Linked DNA regions of Homo sapiens: region 2 is linked to region 1. The links come from fine-mapping of genetic effects on gene expression. Tissue or cell type: whole blood. Region 1 holds a variant in brackets; the other region holds the start of a gene. All regions are shown on one strand. Distances are from middle to middle.

Region 1 (8,547 bases):
ACATGGCTGACTCGTGTGTACACTAGTCAGATAATGCACTTTTACAAATATTTTCTTATCAGTACATTTTTGAAACAATAGTATATACCTCCATTGGTCCTTAAGTAATCACTAGGTTATTGGCTAAAAGTCTTGTACTAGAGAGCCTGCTGCTACATTTGAGGTACTGTCACCTAAGGAACTGTTTCTAGTAATATTTTTCTGGATAAACAAAATTATCACACAGGACGGTAGACCTACATTTTACAAAGTACGTAAATGGCCAAAATCTGAAGAATTGCATTCAGCTAAGCAAAATATTCTTCAGAAAATAACTGGAATATGTAAAAATTTGTTGCTTGTTTTATAGTTATTTATATTTGTTTTTATCTTTATAATACAAAACAAAACATGTTTTATCCTTGTATTCTTTTGCTATCAAACATGTATTTTTATGTGGTATTGTTCATTATGTGCAATAAATTTTTTGTGAATAAATTACTATAGATCTTTGAGATTTTATAAAAACTAAACATATCCTTCATTTCTTGCTTCTAATATAGTGTCACTCAGTATATAAATGACATATGTTAAGTTGCTGTTAAACACTCAAATGCCATGATAGTCAACATCTATTGTCATTTCATAACAGTTTATTGATTGTAGCAATTCATAATATTAGAAATAACTGTACATTTAGAAGGAGGCTCAAGTAAAAGTATTTAAAATAAAATAAAAAACTATTTCCTGCCCACAATTACTCAAGTGTAAAAATTGAACTTATTTCTGCATGTGTTTCTTCTTTCCAAAAGATAATTTTAAATTAAGGAACGGAAACTCTGAGAAAATCGGATACTTACGTAATGTCTTTTCATCTTTGCCTAGACTTAATTATATCTTGTATGTGTTTGTAAAAACAAAATAAAAAATGAATTCACCTTTATAAATCCATTTTTTCTTGATATTGGGATGAAAATGTGACCTTTGTTTTGGTAAAGATGAATATTTGCAACAAAGTGTCATAATGTTTTGAGATTACATTGATAGCCAGAAAATACCTGGGTTTTCTGTTTCCAGCTACATCACTCCCTGGCCAGGTCTTTATGAAACTAAATCACAAATTTATTATTTCTGCTGAACATCAAATATTTACCATATGTAAATGTAGTATTTACCGTAATTATATTGTGGTAATTAGCTTAGTCACCGACTACTAATTTAATGAATAAACCAAATCAGTTCACCAAGTACCTTAGTTTTCACTTTTGAAAATGATAGACAGACTTCTGGGACTTGATAGCATCAAGTCAGCTGTCTTATTATGACTCTCCCAGTTTACCATTAAAATGGCAATGAAGACATAAAACAAGACAAAAGTTAGAGTACTGTAAACTGAAACTGAGCCATTTGCAAGAATCTGGAAGGAAGTTCTATCATTGGAAGCTGAATTCAGAAATAGAGTTGATGGGTTACAAATCCATTGCTATCTGAAGAGCACAAGACTACCTGGAAAATCGGTATCCAGCTTCTCCTCTTGTGGAGCTGATATCTACCCTCCTCTCTTCGGCATGGGATAGAAGAAGGCTGACCCACAGGTTGTGGGTGTACAGCAAAGGAAGTCAGGATCCATGTCCCTCCCATGATAGTGTAAATAGTTAATGCTCTGTTAATCCTAACAGAGCAAGAACAGCTGTGAATAAGTACAGTTGTGAAATGAAATGAGTCAGCAGCTGTGGTCAAGCAAGAAGAAGTGGACTTTTTGGCAGGATATCAGCCAAGTCATAATTACAAAACAATAAAGCATTCTCATAAAAATCAAAAACAAAATTACAATGTCTGTTATGCCAATATAATTTAACAATTTTAGAAGTTCTAGCTAAAATAATAAGAATAAAAGATGAAACTATTGAAAATAAATTCATAGGTGGGAATTGAGCAATGAGAACACATGGACACAGGAAGGGGAACATCACACACTGGGGACTGTTGTGGGGTGGGGGGAGGGGGGAGGGATAGCATTAGGAGATATATCTAATGCTAAATGATGAGTTAATGGGTGCAGCATACCAGCATGGCACATGTATACATATGTAACAAACCTGCACGTCGTGCACATGTACCCTAAAACTTAAAGTATAATAATAATAAAATTTAAAAAGTAAATAAATAGATAAATTGAATACTGTTTGAAGATAATAGATTGTAGGCCCAGCACAGTGGCTCATGCCTGTAATCCCAGCACACTGAGAGGCCAAAGCAGGCAGATCACTTGAGGTCAGGAGTTCGAGACCAACCTGGCCTACATGGTGAACCCCTTGTCTCTACTGAAAATCAAAAAATTAGCCGGGTGTGGTGGTGCATGCCCGTAAACCCAGCTACTCCAGAGGCTGAGGCAGGAGAATCACTTGAACCCCGGGGGCAGGGGTGGTAGGGGAGGATGGAGGTTGCAGTGAGATCGCACGATTGCACTCCAGCCTGGGTGGTAGAGCAAGACGCTGTCTCAAAAAAAAAAAGGTAATAGATTGTAGACTTACAAAACTTAAGAGAATTTACTGCAACACTATTTGAATGAATAAAGAATTCAGTAAAAGTGGCTGGATTCAAGATAAATATACAAAAAGTGGTAGTTTATCTTAAAATCAACAATAACTAATTAGAAAATATAATAGCAAAAAGATACCCTTTACAAGAAAACCTCCAAAAAACAAAAATATTAATTATTCAAGAATAACCTTAATAAAAATGTAAAGACAAATTATTATGCTATTCTGTGTAAAGATAGAATATTATAAAGTTATCAGTTCCCAAATTAATTTGGATAATGGAATACTAATAAAACACTTGGGAAAGGGAAATTTTGACAAAATTTGTTCTAAAATTTATATAAAGAAATTAGCAAGTAAGAGTAAGGTGTTTTCAAAAAAGAAATATATCTAACAAATTAGTAAGTATATTATAAAGGTACAATAGTTAACAGTAGTATAGTGTTGCCAGGCATGGTGGCTCATGCCTGTAATCCCAGCACTTGGGGAGGCCAAGGAGGGCAGATTGCTTGAGCCCAGAAGTTGAAGAACAGCCTAGCAAACATAGTGAACTCTGTCTCTACAAAAAAAAAAAAAAAAGTATAATAATTAGGCAGCCAGGCACAGTGGCTCACGCCTGTAATCCCAGCACTTTGGGAGGCCTAGGCAGGCGGATCACGAGGTCAGGAGATCAAGACCATCCTGGCTAACACGGTAAAACCCCATCTCTCCTAAAAATAGAAAAAAATTAGCCAGGCGTGGTGGCACATGCCTGTAGTCCCAGCTACTCGGGAGGCTGAGGCTGGAGAATCACTTAAACCCAGGAGGCGGAGGTTGCAGTGAGCTGAGATTGTGCCACTGCACTCCAGCCTGGGCAACAGATGGCACACACCTGTAATCTCAGCTACATGGGAGGCTTAGGTGGGAGGTTTGCTTGAGCCCTAGAGTTCAAGGCTGCAGTGAGCCATGATGGCACCACTGCACTCCAGCCTGAGCAACAGAGCAAGACCCTGTCAAAAAACAAAAAAAAGAAAAATAGTATGGTGTTGGTATTTAGCTAGACAGTAATTAATAAATGATTCAAATTCATAAAAGTATAGCCAAGGAACAGACATTTACTCAGAATGGCATATATGATAAAGATGTCATAATTAATCAGTAAGGAAGAAACAGATATATATGGAGTTAGAACAGTTATTTTTATAAGAAGAATATATTTTTACCTCACAAAAATTTGACAGATTAACTTTTTAAAAGTACAAACTATAAACAATGTCTAGAAAATGTGCTGTTAAATAATAACACTTTATTTTAGCTATAGTAGTCAGAATTATTATGGAATGCAGAGGTTCAGGTCACTGTAAAGAATAAAACTTACCAAAATTATTACTTGTCATTTCTTTTTCCCTTCTTTATAGATATTCGAATACCACTAATGTGGAAAGACTCTGATCACTTCAGCAATAAAGAACGTATGTATGATTTTAATTTGTAATTGAAATGTTTTCTTTAGTATGTAGTGTATCTGATTATTGAGAAAAAAGACTGCTTCCTTGCTGAAATAAATTGATGTCATTTGAAAGAATAAGCAGCATCTTGAACTGTTTTCTGATTTTTAATATAAATATGTTGCAGTCACTTGATACTAATTAATATAGTGCATATGTAGTGTACTTTTAGTTGTTGATAGGAACCAGTGCTAGGACAGTAAGTACCGGGTTCAGAGTGGGAACGGGGGAAGGGAAATATGGAACAAAAGAAAATGTTTAGCGAATAAAGGTAAAGCCAACATTTCTTGTATTTGACCAGAATCTGGAAGATTTTTCTGCCTTATTTCATTACTTCAGGTTATTTAACAGGATGAAATAGGGAAAGATTTTTAGCTTGATCTGATTTTTTTTCCTTCAATATTTTATGGTTTTATACAGTCTTTACAAATCCGTGTATTGCTTAGGTCATGGAAATTAACCTCGAATGATTTCTAGCTATTAGAGGCAAAGCAGGAAAGATATGATAATACTTTATCTTTCTTGTCTATTGTGATAGCTTTGTTCCTTGTACTTTAAAAACTGAATCATATTAAGCACAATTAGTTTTATATGAAGAATTTAAAATCAGGTTAGTATTTATTATTCAATTAGGAAATATAATTTACTTTACAAAGGAATACATGTGGGAATTAAGTAAAGCTTTCTGATTACTAAAGAGAGTAAGTTTTTCTGAAGAGCTACATTTTCTCAATAATGAGGATTTAGCCTTTTAATCACCTAATACTTTTTAAAACATCACCAAATCAAAAGGCCCAGCAGCTATGTTTTTTGTGTTCTCATGTCTATTTTATTGTTTTGTTTT[T/GT]TTTTTTCTTGTGGTTTCCTCCCTTGCTGTTAGTTTGGTGGAAAATATTTTGCTGTCGTTAATGTGCCTACTCTTAACCTCTTCTAATAAAAAACATCTTTTTCTTAAATAGACTTGGAAACCAAAATGACAGCGGTAGTAGTAGTGTGTGTGTGCACGCTTGCATGCCCGCGCATGTGTGTATATAAAGTTTACTATTAATTAAAGCTTAAGAAGTTTAATAGGAATAAAATTTATGAGTTTGGTGGTTTCTTTAGGCTGCTGAGAGGCCTGTATATTTAACTTTATTTTTTGCTTCCTTGTTTAATTGTGTTCTAGTTGAGTAAGGTATTCCTATATACTGGGAGAACAGTCACTGTAAGACTTAAGGGTTACAGTATACAATGTATGAAAAGAATCTATTAATAATATTTAACCTAATATTTATTTTCAAGTAGATTTTAACAATGATTTATTACATGGATTGTTGCTTAATATGTTGTTATTTTTCCTCCAGGATCACGACGCTATGCCATTTTTTGTTTATTCAAAATGGGAGCTAATGTGTTTGATACTGATGTGGTGAATGTGGATAAAACAATCACAGATATATGTTTTGAAAATGTAACCATATTGTAAGTATTTTTTAATCTTCAGAGAATAAAAATAATTTAAAATTCTTCTTTTTTAAAAGAAAGTTCTTATTATTGGTTCTTTGGATTCATTTTATGTTTAAATGTTTAAGTGATCTTTAAATGTTTAATATGATTTTAAAAATCATTTTGTTCAGAAGAAGTCCATTTCTCTATCTGCAGTTTTCTGATGTGAAATAAAAATGGAAATCTTGTAATTACTATTAGCAGTAAATATTTGACTTATTAGATATGACCCATTTTTAAATTGTTAATAAATATAGTTCAGTTATTAACAAAGCTATGCATACAACAGAATATCCTGTAATGTTATTTGATATAGAGAGAATTTAAGCATAAAACAGGATTTTTATCTCATGTAGGATATTTGGTTGCAGAAATACTAAAATAGTATAGCAACTTTATTTACAAGATAGTCCTGAAGTACATGCTATATAGGAAGAGCACTTTGAAATTTTGGGGTGTTCTTTTTCTTATGGTGCACTTCTTTCATGTACTTCAAAGCAATAAAAAAAAATGGGTGATCTCAGGGCTGTTTTTATTGTCCCTGCTCTTTTACAGGCTCATTTTATTGTGGTCATAATACAGAACAAGAAGGAACTCCTTGGGTAGCCATAGAAATCATTTTTAACTAACATAGTTTTTCCTGCCCTCCTTCAAAGGTTCTATGTGCCTAAATCAGTGTGGGATTTGTATTTTAGACTTTTAAAGACACGATCTTTAGATCTAAATGTTAATAGCTACTAACTATTAATATAAAAATCCATGTGCATGGTTTTTGCCATTTTCAGCTATGGAGCTAGACAGGTGAGATTTTAGAGGCCTAGTTTTGCCACTCACATAACATTAAAAAAACCTATAGTAAACCATATTTTGTAGCTTCTGGTCCAGTGTCTCATAGTAATAGTATAGCCTGGAAAAATAAAATGCATTGTTCTGAGTTATAAGTAGTAATTCAGGCCTTCTTACAAGCTGTATTGAACCAAAGGAATTTATTTAGGATCCAAAACATATCCCCAAATGCTTATATAATTGAGGCTAAAAAAATTACTTTTTTCTTGGTTATCTGAATACATTTATTTCCATTATCAACTATTGCTAGTGAACTTTTTTTTCTGCCAAAATTACCAGTTGATGGGCCCTTTTCTTCACATCATTTTGCTATTGTTTGTTTTGATCATGGAGACAAAAATCAGACTTTTTTTTCCAGGGAAAGAACAATAGAAGTTACTGAGGAAGACAACACATGATTTATAATTTTTTGAGAATTCTGTAAATATTTTAAATTGTACTAAAAATAACTGCTGACAAATGTTCTACATGTTGAAAAATGTGCTTTTTGTTATGATGATTGTTTTTAATAAGTATTCAATATTTATGAATCTCTGGTTTTTCTCTAAATATTGACATTTGTTAGTCATTACCAGGAATACTGCATGTTTAAAAGTTGCCAAATAATAAACTATAAAAATAGCTGGAAGTTATTCCTGGGATTTTTTCAAACTATAGATTGGCCATTTATATCTTTAAAAGTCTGTGCTCCATTTTTTAAATCTCTGAAACTGATGGATCTTCCATCTGCAAGTAACATCTGCTGCTGATGGACCTCTTTTGCAGTCTTAAGTATATTTTATTGTTAGTAACACCACCACAGTCTTTAATGCTAAAGGTAGTTCAAAGGTAGTTCGTTGTGTCTGAAAAAGGGTAAAGCCAATCTTAACATTTGCTAAAATTGCAGAATTTTGCGTATTTATTTGATAAATATATATCTAATACCTCCTACATTCCAGGCCAATACTAGATTAAGAACACAAAGATCACCCAGACAGCACCCATTCTCAAGGAGTTCATGCTTTGAAGTACATTTTTCCCCTGTATAACCAGATAGTAAAATGTTATTTATAGTTATTAGGTACAAAAGTGGGGGAGGGTCAGGGGACACAGTGACGAGTGCACTATAAGTGACTCTTTATAAAGAAGAAATGAAAACTAAAGGTTTAGCAGATTTTTTTTGGAAGAACAGTCATTTCAGAAAATTACACATATAAATACCTTAAAAATGTATTAAAGGAATGACAAGGAGAAATAGTATTGGCAACAAAATGACCAGGGTATTTTATGCTTTCTTTAACATGCCTATGTATATATTGGTTAAATTGAGTTAAGATTGCCCTAGTTTTGAAGCTGATATCTGTGAAAGTTGCGGTAACTCTCTCAGGCCATTTAGATGCTAAATAAACACTGAGAGATTCTGTCTCATTAACATACATTAACATAAACTTATTCCAAATTCTTATTTTTTTTCCCATAAACCTTGCACTTATTGAGGAGATTTTGCAATCTTCTCTTGGCTCCCCTGCAGTCTTTTATTTATTTTAAAAAGAAATTTTATTGTGTATATTTGAGGTTTATAACACGATGTTACAGGATACATATAAATAGTAAAATGTTACTATAATCAAACAGATTAACATCTATCATCTCACATAGTTACTTTTTGTGACAAAAGCAGCTAAAATCTATTTAACAAAAATCTCTAACATGATTTGATTAACATTCACCTCATGTTTTTACAGTACATTATATCTCTAAACTTATTCATCCTACATATCTGCTATTTTGTGTCCTTTGACCTATATCTCCCCATTTCCTCTCCCCCAGTCCTTGCCCATGGTAACCACTGTTTTTTTCTCTATTTCTATGGTTTTGAGCTCTTTTTTTTTTAATATTCCACATATAATTGAGAACACACAATATTTTCATTTCTATGCTTGGCTTATTTAACTTAATATCCTCCAAGTTCATCCGTGTTGTAGCAAATGGCAAGATCTCCTTTTTTAAGGCAGAATGGTTGTCCGTTGTGTGTGTGTATACACACGTAGCTTATTTTCTTTATCTGTTTTACCATTGATGGACATACCTTGGCGATTGTGAATAATGCTGCATTCTTATAGTTTCTTCAATATCTTGGCTATTGTGAATAATGCTGCAATGAACAGGGGAGTGCAGATAACTTCACAAGGTAATGATTTTACTCCTTCCAGTATAAACCCAGAAGAAGG
Region 2 (8,432 bases), 29 kb before region 1:
ATGTAGAATCAATACCAATATATATATATACGTATATTTGAGATAGGGTCTTACTCTGTCACCCAGGCTGGAGTGCAGTGGCGTGATCTTGGCTCACTGCAACCTCCACCTCCCGGGTTCAAGCAATTCTCATGCCTCAGCCTCCCGAGTAGCTGGGATTACAGGCACCTGCCACCGCACCCAGCTAATTTTTGTATTTTTAGTGGAGATGGGATTTCACCATGGTGGCCAGGCTGGCCTTGAACTCCTGACCTCAGGTGATCCATCCCCTCAGCCTCCCAAAGTGCAGGATTACAGGCCTGAGCCACTAATCCCGGCCCAATACCAATAATTTTAACGGTCCCTTTGACCTCCAGATGGTTTTTATATTCCAGGACAATGCAATGGGTGGAAGTGATGGCTTTCTTTTGTCAAATGGGAAAAGGTGATTGTGAAAGGGGGACCAAGGGGAGGCCTAGACAGCAAGGTAAGTTGTTAGGCCAATCAATTTCAGAATGAGGGAACCTAAGTTGAAAATCTTAACAATGCGTTCCTTTAAACAGTCAGACCTTTACATATACTCAGGCCTTGCAAAGTCTTTGTGTCCCCCAATTTAAGAACCACCGATTCAAGTTATACAACTAATTCCTGTGACTGATTTGCTTGGTGAGTAAAGAGCATTCTGATTATAATGTCACTTGAATTTCCTCAGGATTGTATGTAATATGTAGGTCACACTGACAGTAATAACTTAAATTGCACTTAATTTTGTTCCCGTCTGCTGACAAGAGCTCTCATCCCTTGCAAATTCTGCCAGACTCCTACCCCTTACTTCTCCCAAGCAGTGGTTCTTAAGTGTGCACAAATAAATCTACATAGCCAATTCTTCAGCATCTTTTTTCTGGTTATAGGTACCAATGCATTACAGCTGTGTTTTCCATGCTTTCACATAATAAAAATACAAAGGTAATGGATCAAATGTCAAGTCAAATTCTGTAAGCCAAAATATGTTTGATTAGTTTTAAAACATGTATTATTATATTATAATAATATGTATTATTAGTTTTATAAAAAACCCACACGTTATCACTATTGTTTAACATTTACAAGGACCTTTTTACATATTAAAAATTTCTTATTATGAAAAGTTTGATGCATACTAAATATATGTTATATATGTAAGTTACCAGGTAAACATTACAATTAATACTGGTGAACCCATCACCCAACTTAAGAACTAAAACATGACAAGTAAGTAGCTCTATATCTGCAGGCTCTGTGACTATCCTGTTCTCCTGCCTTCCTTCCAAAGCTGGCCATTAGCCTGAATTTTGTTTTTAGCATTCCTTTACTGTTAAGAATAAACTTTTATCACACACCTGTTTCCTTAAACAATGTGTTGTTTAGAGTCTCTTGTTATTCAAGTTTACAAATATTATATATTCTGCGTACTCTTCTGCAACTAGTTCTCTTCATTCAGTATTTCTAAGATTTAGTTATGTGTATGTTACTAAACATAATTATGGCTTATTTTTTAAAAGATACGTGACATTCTACTGGGTAAATCACCACAATTTATTAATCCATGCTCCTGAAATGAGCATTTGGATTTTAAAAATACTTTTGCTATGATAAGCAATGTTGCCTATACAAATTTGCAAGAATTTCCCACAGGATACATACCAAGGAGCAGAATTGCTAGGTAAACACATTTTCAACTTTACAAGACTGTTCTAAATTTGTTTTTTCCAAAGTGATTGGACATATTTCTATCTCCTCCACCAGCATATAATATCTCTTGGACCTGCATCTTTGCCAACCCCTAGTATTATCAGATTTCTTAATATTTCTCAATCTAGTGACTGTAAAATATCTCTTTGGGATCTTAATCTGCAGTTCACAGACTAATAATAAGGTTAAGCAACCTTTCCTATTTTATTTGTCACTTGGATTTACTCTCCTATAATATGCCTACCATACCTTTTGACCATTTTCCAGTTGAATTTTTATTGATTTATAGGAGTTCTTTATATATAGCATATTATTTAGCAGTGGTAGGTGATATATCTTGAATATATCCAATTCACATACATTTTTCTCATTCAGTTCTCATAGTTCTATAGGTACTTTACAGTTGCCTTTCGGTACTCATGTTTTCTTCCTACAGTAGTAACAACTCCTGTTTTTGTGGGACAGTTTACAAAGCACTCTCAAAAATCTTATCTGAGTCTCCCAACAACTTTAAAAAACAAGATGGGTATTATATACTTGTTTTATAGATAAGAAAACTGAGTGGCTTGCCCAAGGTAATCGGGCTAATAAATCCTCAGACTCCACATTCCATAGCCTCCTTCTGATTATGTGATGCTTCAGCTATTCATAGACATTCATTTAAGAAAATGCTGCACTTCTGCTTAGCACCTTGACCTCAGTTCCTTCTTTCTCTCTGTTTCTTCCATATATAATTCAAAATATAACTTTAATTTATTCAGTTCAACCTAAACAGATTATCTACAAGATGAACAGATGAGTAAAAGAAAGCACCAAGAGAATTTTTAAGAGGACTTTTTTTTTATAAGAGAGGCTAGGAGGATATTCAAAATCACAAGTTATCTGTTCTGTGTCAAACCACATTTTTCAAAATAATGGATCTGTTGTGTAACAGAGAGCTGATTTTAAGTTCAGTGTTTTCCTTTAGCCTCTTAGTTTAAAACAAGAATACAGAAAATAAGAGAAGAAAAATATACTTTGGCATCTATTGGTATTATCTAGATTGGCTTCTGTAGTTTTTAATTTATTATAATACTATCTGCTATATTAGGGATAACTAATATACGTATATTTTTAATTAGTATTAAATATTGACCTTATAGTGAGAAGTAATATTGGTAGGACAGTAATTCCATCACTCATCCTCTAGCTGAAGCTACTACATCTGGGCAGTTCGGTGGATATCGACCTTCTGTAAGAGCCCAGGGATGATGGGTTAAGAGATGCCCAAATGTTCTCTCTCAGATATTTGAGATGGTAAAACGTAGTACTTCTCACTTTCTGGGAACTGTAAAATAAATAGATTGATAGAGAAATCCTCAAGCTAATGAAGCCACTGCATATGAACTCTTTAAATTTTGTAGTTTCCATGGATGAGTATATTTTATGTGCATTACATACACCAGAGAAAACTGGCTGATGAAATTAGCAGTAACAAGTAAGGACTTGAGGATAAATAAGGAAACATAAGTCCTACTCCAAGGTATTTTAATCATCATATAATAATTAAGTACTTAAGCAATTCCTGGGGACCTCTCCCGGTGTATAATAAAAACAGGACCACATCATAACTTCTTCTCCCAAGAGAAAGGTCTCTTGTAACAACTGTATTCTACAGATAATTACTAAATATGATCTTGCCTAATCTCTTTCTTCTAGTATCATAAATAAATGTATCTCCAGTTAAATATCTGGTTTTAACTCATCAAATACTCCTCTATCAGTGTCCAATTCTAAACTGGTTGACTCACCTCTGTTTTAATGAAGTGCTGGCTTCTACATGTATTTTGATCTGCAACTGAGAGCTGTATGTGTTGTAAGTACTATGTGTCTGATGATGGGCTCGCGGTGTGTTTTTCTTTTGAGTCAGGTACTACAGCTAGGCTCATGCAGCCTCATACTGAGTAGGAGATAATTATACCACAAAGTGGTAGCATAAGACAGAGATGTGCATTGGAGGAAAGGGCACATAATGATTCTGAAATTCAGACCTGTGTTTGTAGAAAACGAGGTGAGCTCCGTGTTGATAATTTTGAACACATATTTTATTGTTGTAAGGATATGGGTCATTCATAATGCAAGGGGACCATCATTCCCAACTGGGAAGCTTCTAGTATCACCTAGTCCAAAAGGTCTTAAAGAGGCATTTTACCTATTTGAGGAAGGGTATCCATTATATTTTTAAAGTACATTCTCAAACCAACTGCTTTTAAAAGGGTCTTGCAGTTAAAATGACCACATAATATCCACTACGGGATAAGTGCAAGATTGGTGCAACATTGGGACAACAGACCCAGACAGGGTCTGTCCCAGGCAAATGAAAAAACATGGGCACCTATTTATGGAGGAAAAATGCCCAAGGGTTTCTAGGCGATGAGGGCTGGAGGGTTGATTTGGTAGACTCTTCAAGAAGAGGCTTCCTCTTGCCTTTTCAAGGGGGAAATAAAGATAAACTAGGGACAATGAATTTTAAGGACTTTTCAAGGGTGTGATATCTTTGCTGCTTTCATTTTGATTTTTAAAAATCCCATGTTTCCCTTTATAATTAACAAAATCCATGAATTAAAATGGGTCTTTGTGCTAATCTTTAGGGCAGCAAGAAATGAGGCTCTTGAGAAATAGTACCCCATTTTGCTATCACCTTAGATGTTGGAGAGGGAAAGAGAGGGCGAGAGAGCTGAAAGAAATCCTTCGCAAGAAAACAAAGTAAGTGGACAGAGTAGTTGGCGGGGAACATCTGGGATTATAAACACTGGGGGCAAAGACAAGACCTTGTGAAATGCCTGACATAGTATCTCACGAACCTGATGAATAAAACCATGATATCTGGGTGACCCTGGTGACAACGCTGGGAAAGGTGAGAGGAAACAGAGAGCGCTGTGTTTGAGAGTAATGTTATTGGTTCTTTAGGAACGAGACCGTGGGCTCTTAGTGACGCTGTGGGTTCCTGAGTTGTCTGGGAGTACAGGGACTGCAGCCTCGAGTCTGTCCAGCTACGATCACTTTGGAAGGCCTTCGGTGGGATGCGGGCAGAAAGCTCCCAGTGCAAAGGGCGTGCCACGAAAACCACCAGCCAGAAACCTGAGCTGGGACAGGTGCGCTCCGCCGCCGAAGCTTTCCCCGCGGCCCCTCCCACTCCCGTCCCAGGCCCGCCCACATCCCTGTCCGGGACTTAAGTCCGGCACCGCCGCCCTCTCCCCCGCCCCGCCGCGCTAGAGCCTGGGGTCTCGGCAACTTCCGGCGGCGGGAGCTGCAGAGCGCAAGGCGCGCCCACTGCGCGTGCGCTTCGGCCCGGCTCCTCCTGCGCCCCCGGCCCCTGCGACTGGGACTTGGTACGGCCGGGCGGTTGGCGTCCTCTGCGGCTCCTGCCAGGGGCGGGCTTTTCAAATCTTCCCTTTGAAGGAGTGGCGACGGCCCGGACAGTTCGCGTTGGAGATGGAGGGGCCGAGCCTGAGGGGTCCTGCGCTCCGCCTGGCGGGGCTTCCCACCCAGCAGGTGAGTTGCGGGAGGGACCCTGCCGCGGAAGGTGAGGGAGCCGGGGTTCTGTTCCTCGCGCATTTGCTTTGTGGAGGAGTCGGGAAAGCCTCTCCCCCGCTCCTCTATTTCAGCGGTGGCCAGAAACAAAGGGAGGGATTAGGAGACTGCGCTCTTGGGGCTCTAAAGGGCCTGGACATCGGAACCCCCGAGTTTCTCAGGCAGCTGAGGTCCGGATTGGGAAGGCGGTGCCGGGGTCCAGGCGCGCGTTTGCGGGCGCACCTGTCCGCTGCCCTCCCCAGGCTTTGGACGCCTGTCTTTTTGCAGGTGTAGGTGATGCCGGGGAAATGGGAGCCCCTCGATTCCCAAGAAACCCAGCGAGGCCAGTGGACAGCTGGCTTATTACGGATTTAATGGGAAGCACAGTAATGGAGCGATGTCTACACACAACACAGAACTGGTTGGGGGGAGGGGGTTCGGAGCGGAGTAGAGGCAAACAGCAACCTCTGCACTTTAGAAAAAGTTGAAGGTTTGATACTGGGTTCTTTCTCAAATCATTTGAAAGGAAAGAGGGAGTACACGTGACATTGGATAGAAGTTTGATGTTTGCTTTTGAGCCATGTAAAATGCGTTAGAAACCTTTTTATTTTACTTTTTACTAAACCAACATTATTTCTTGGCAGCATCAGTTATTAAAATGTTACCACTTTTCACTCTTAACCATAACTTTAGGGTCTTAAAAGAAAACTCTGATGTCTTTAAGCTGGACCTTCACTTCTATTTTAATCTCTACCTTCTTTTACCTACTTCAGAAATAGGTTAAGCCATATGAAATTGCCAGTTTTGTAGGTCAAAATTGGTAGAATATTTGCAATTTCATTCATATGGAGGCACCTGATATCTTTGTTTAAAAATCTGGGATTTCCTTAGCAGACACAAAATTATTAGTTTTCAATAATACTGTGAAAAATAAAGCAAGACATTAAGATTCATTATGCAAAAGAAGTCCAGTGTCTTTATCAGTAATACTTATGCTGTTTTATGCCAGCATTTTCAAAAATTTCAAAGATTTTGATGTACTTTTTTTCAGTCCTGTCCTGTTATGTACTTTGGCTGTCCTGATTGCTAACAAAATCTTGATTTATAGTGAATTGCCATTCTATTGATGTTCTTGCACCTATCATATAGGTGTAGGTGTAGCTGTCCAGGTGTATTTATTGAGCTGCAGGCTGCAAGAATAGGAATGGTACAGAAGCGACAAGAGGATAAAATCATGAAGTTTAGTTGCATGGAATGAAAATAAATGTTTAAATATACATAAAGCCTGGGTTATTTACATGTGGGAAGATACAATACTTAATTTCTTAGGCAGGACAAAATCAAAATGATTGAAATGTGGAATTACTTCCTCAGTTTGGATTTGAAGAAAAAACACAAAATAGTAGTAGGTTGCAACCTAACAGGAATATTGAGAGTCAGATAATTTTATACTTGACTAACACTGAATTTTTATTTGGTATTTCCTTTGATACATGAATGAAGCTGCCACGTAATCGAGATAAGGCCAAAGATTTTGAGGTGGTCACACACTGGTCAAACACCTCTGCTGAAACCCTGGAGTCCTCTGCGACTCCTCACAGCATAGAGTATTGGCTTTGGAGTCAGATTCAGGTCAAACCAAACTCTTCTTGTTGTGCAACCTTGAATAAGTTATCTCTGTTTTCTAAGTTTCAGTTTCCACCGTTGTAGCTTGGGTATTCCGCCTATCCCAGACAGCTGTTGGAATTGGAGAACCTCTCTAAAGTACTTATCACAGCACCTAGCACTCAGGATGTGCTTCAGAGATGACTATTGTTGTTATTATCCTTTGTCCTATTCATCTGAGTGGTTAGGGCAGTCCCCTACTTTTCTTACAAATGTTTAAGCTTTTGGCATCTTAATAAAAATAAAATTCAAAAAGTAATACTATCTCATTGCAGAAAAGTCAACATATACAGAAACATGAATTTAAGAATTCGGTCTCCAGTTCCATTCCCCAGAATGGCCGCTGTTAACAATTTCCAGACTTTTTTCTGTACATAAACAATTCTTAAAATCCACACAGTTTCTTTTAGCAAAATGAGAACGTACTGTATTTACTCTTTTCTTCTTCACCTTGGTCTTTGTTAACATGGCTTAACTATATCCATTAGGTGAATCATAGTTTCTGTCTTGATTACTGCGGTTGTCTTACCGGGAGTTCAACTTCAGGTTTTTTTAGTCAGTTTTTAATACCAACAATAAAGCCATTTTCTTTGCACTTCCTTCATGCTAGGCTAGCTCTTAAAACCTAGTAGGTTTCTGTTTCCTACTTAACCTAAATTTCTGTTTTTAAGGTATGCTCCTATTTCATTCATAGCCTTGTCCATATATTTTTATCAGCCTGACTTTAACTACTTATAGCGTCAGGACAGTGACACAGGCTTCTGTTTGACTTGATTAGAGGCAAGCCCTTACTCAGAAAATTGGAAAAGAAATAAGAGTATGATGGCCTTACCTCATTCTCTGCTGTTCCTGGAGACTGGCATTCAAACAATCCTAAAAGGAATGGTTACAGAGAGACCAGCTTTTGTCTTTGGTCCTAATCAGCCTTGACTCTACCTGGCCAAGCCATTATGGCTGAGGGAGCGACACTGATGATTTTCCATTCCCTACTCATCTTCTTTGAGGTTAATAAACATCACTATTGAATGCCCAATCGGTACCCTTATTACATGATCATTATTCTTGCTGGGGATAGCACTAGACATGAACCCTTACCCCTGATGCATTGTATACCCTTAGTAACTAAAGACAACTCTAAAGAGTTTTGGTTCCATAAACCCTTCCTTGCTAGAGCTAGCACTGCTTAACCAGAGAGGCTTTTTCTGCATGTAAAATGTAGATGTGTACTAAAAGAAGTTGCATGGGAAATACAAAACTGGCTAAAACAGTAGCCTTAAGAAAAAAAAAAAAACCAACAGCTCAGAATACATTGAAAACCATATGTACACTTAACAATTCATCCTGCTTATGTTAGCCTTCTGGGATCCACTTAACTGACATTTGCCTGAGACCTGCCTCAGCGAGGGAGGTAAGATTATAGTTTACTGTGTATGTTAATTTGGCTGGATTATGGGTCAGTAAACTATTTCTATAAAGGGGCAAACAGTAAGTATTTTCAGCTTTGC

The links. PIP is the estimated chance that this variant, and not a neighbour inherited with it, causes the effect.
Region 2: RTKN2 starts here. The variant in region 1 is fine-mapped to the expression of RTKN2 in whole blood (INTERVAL, PIP above 0.99).

The regions. Positions count from the first base shown.
Region 1 is chr10:62,236,568-62,245,114 of GRCh38, reverse strand. It overlaps RTKN2 (rhotekin 2), which reads left to right. Exons shown (of 12, transcript NM_145307.4): 4 at 3,920-3,973; 5 at 5,350-5,467. Among named protein-coding and RNA genes, the nearest start is that of LINC02621, 18 kb to the left of the region's middle. The variant T/GT (reference allele first, on the strand shown) is at 4,854.
Region 2 is chr10:62,265,363-62,273,794 of GRCh38, reverse strand. RTKN2 (rhotekin 2) reads left to right here and starts at 4,951. Exons shown (of 12, transcript NM_145307.4): 1 at 4,951-5,244. The coding sequence starts at 5,185. The region is part of intron 1 of LINC02621 (long intergenic non-protein coding RNA 2621); the gene reads right to left. RefSeq lists a silencer at 4,870-5,199.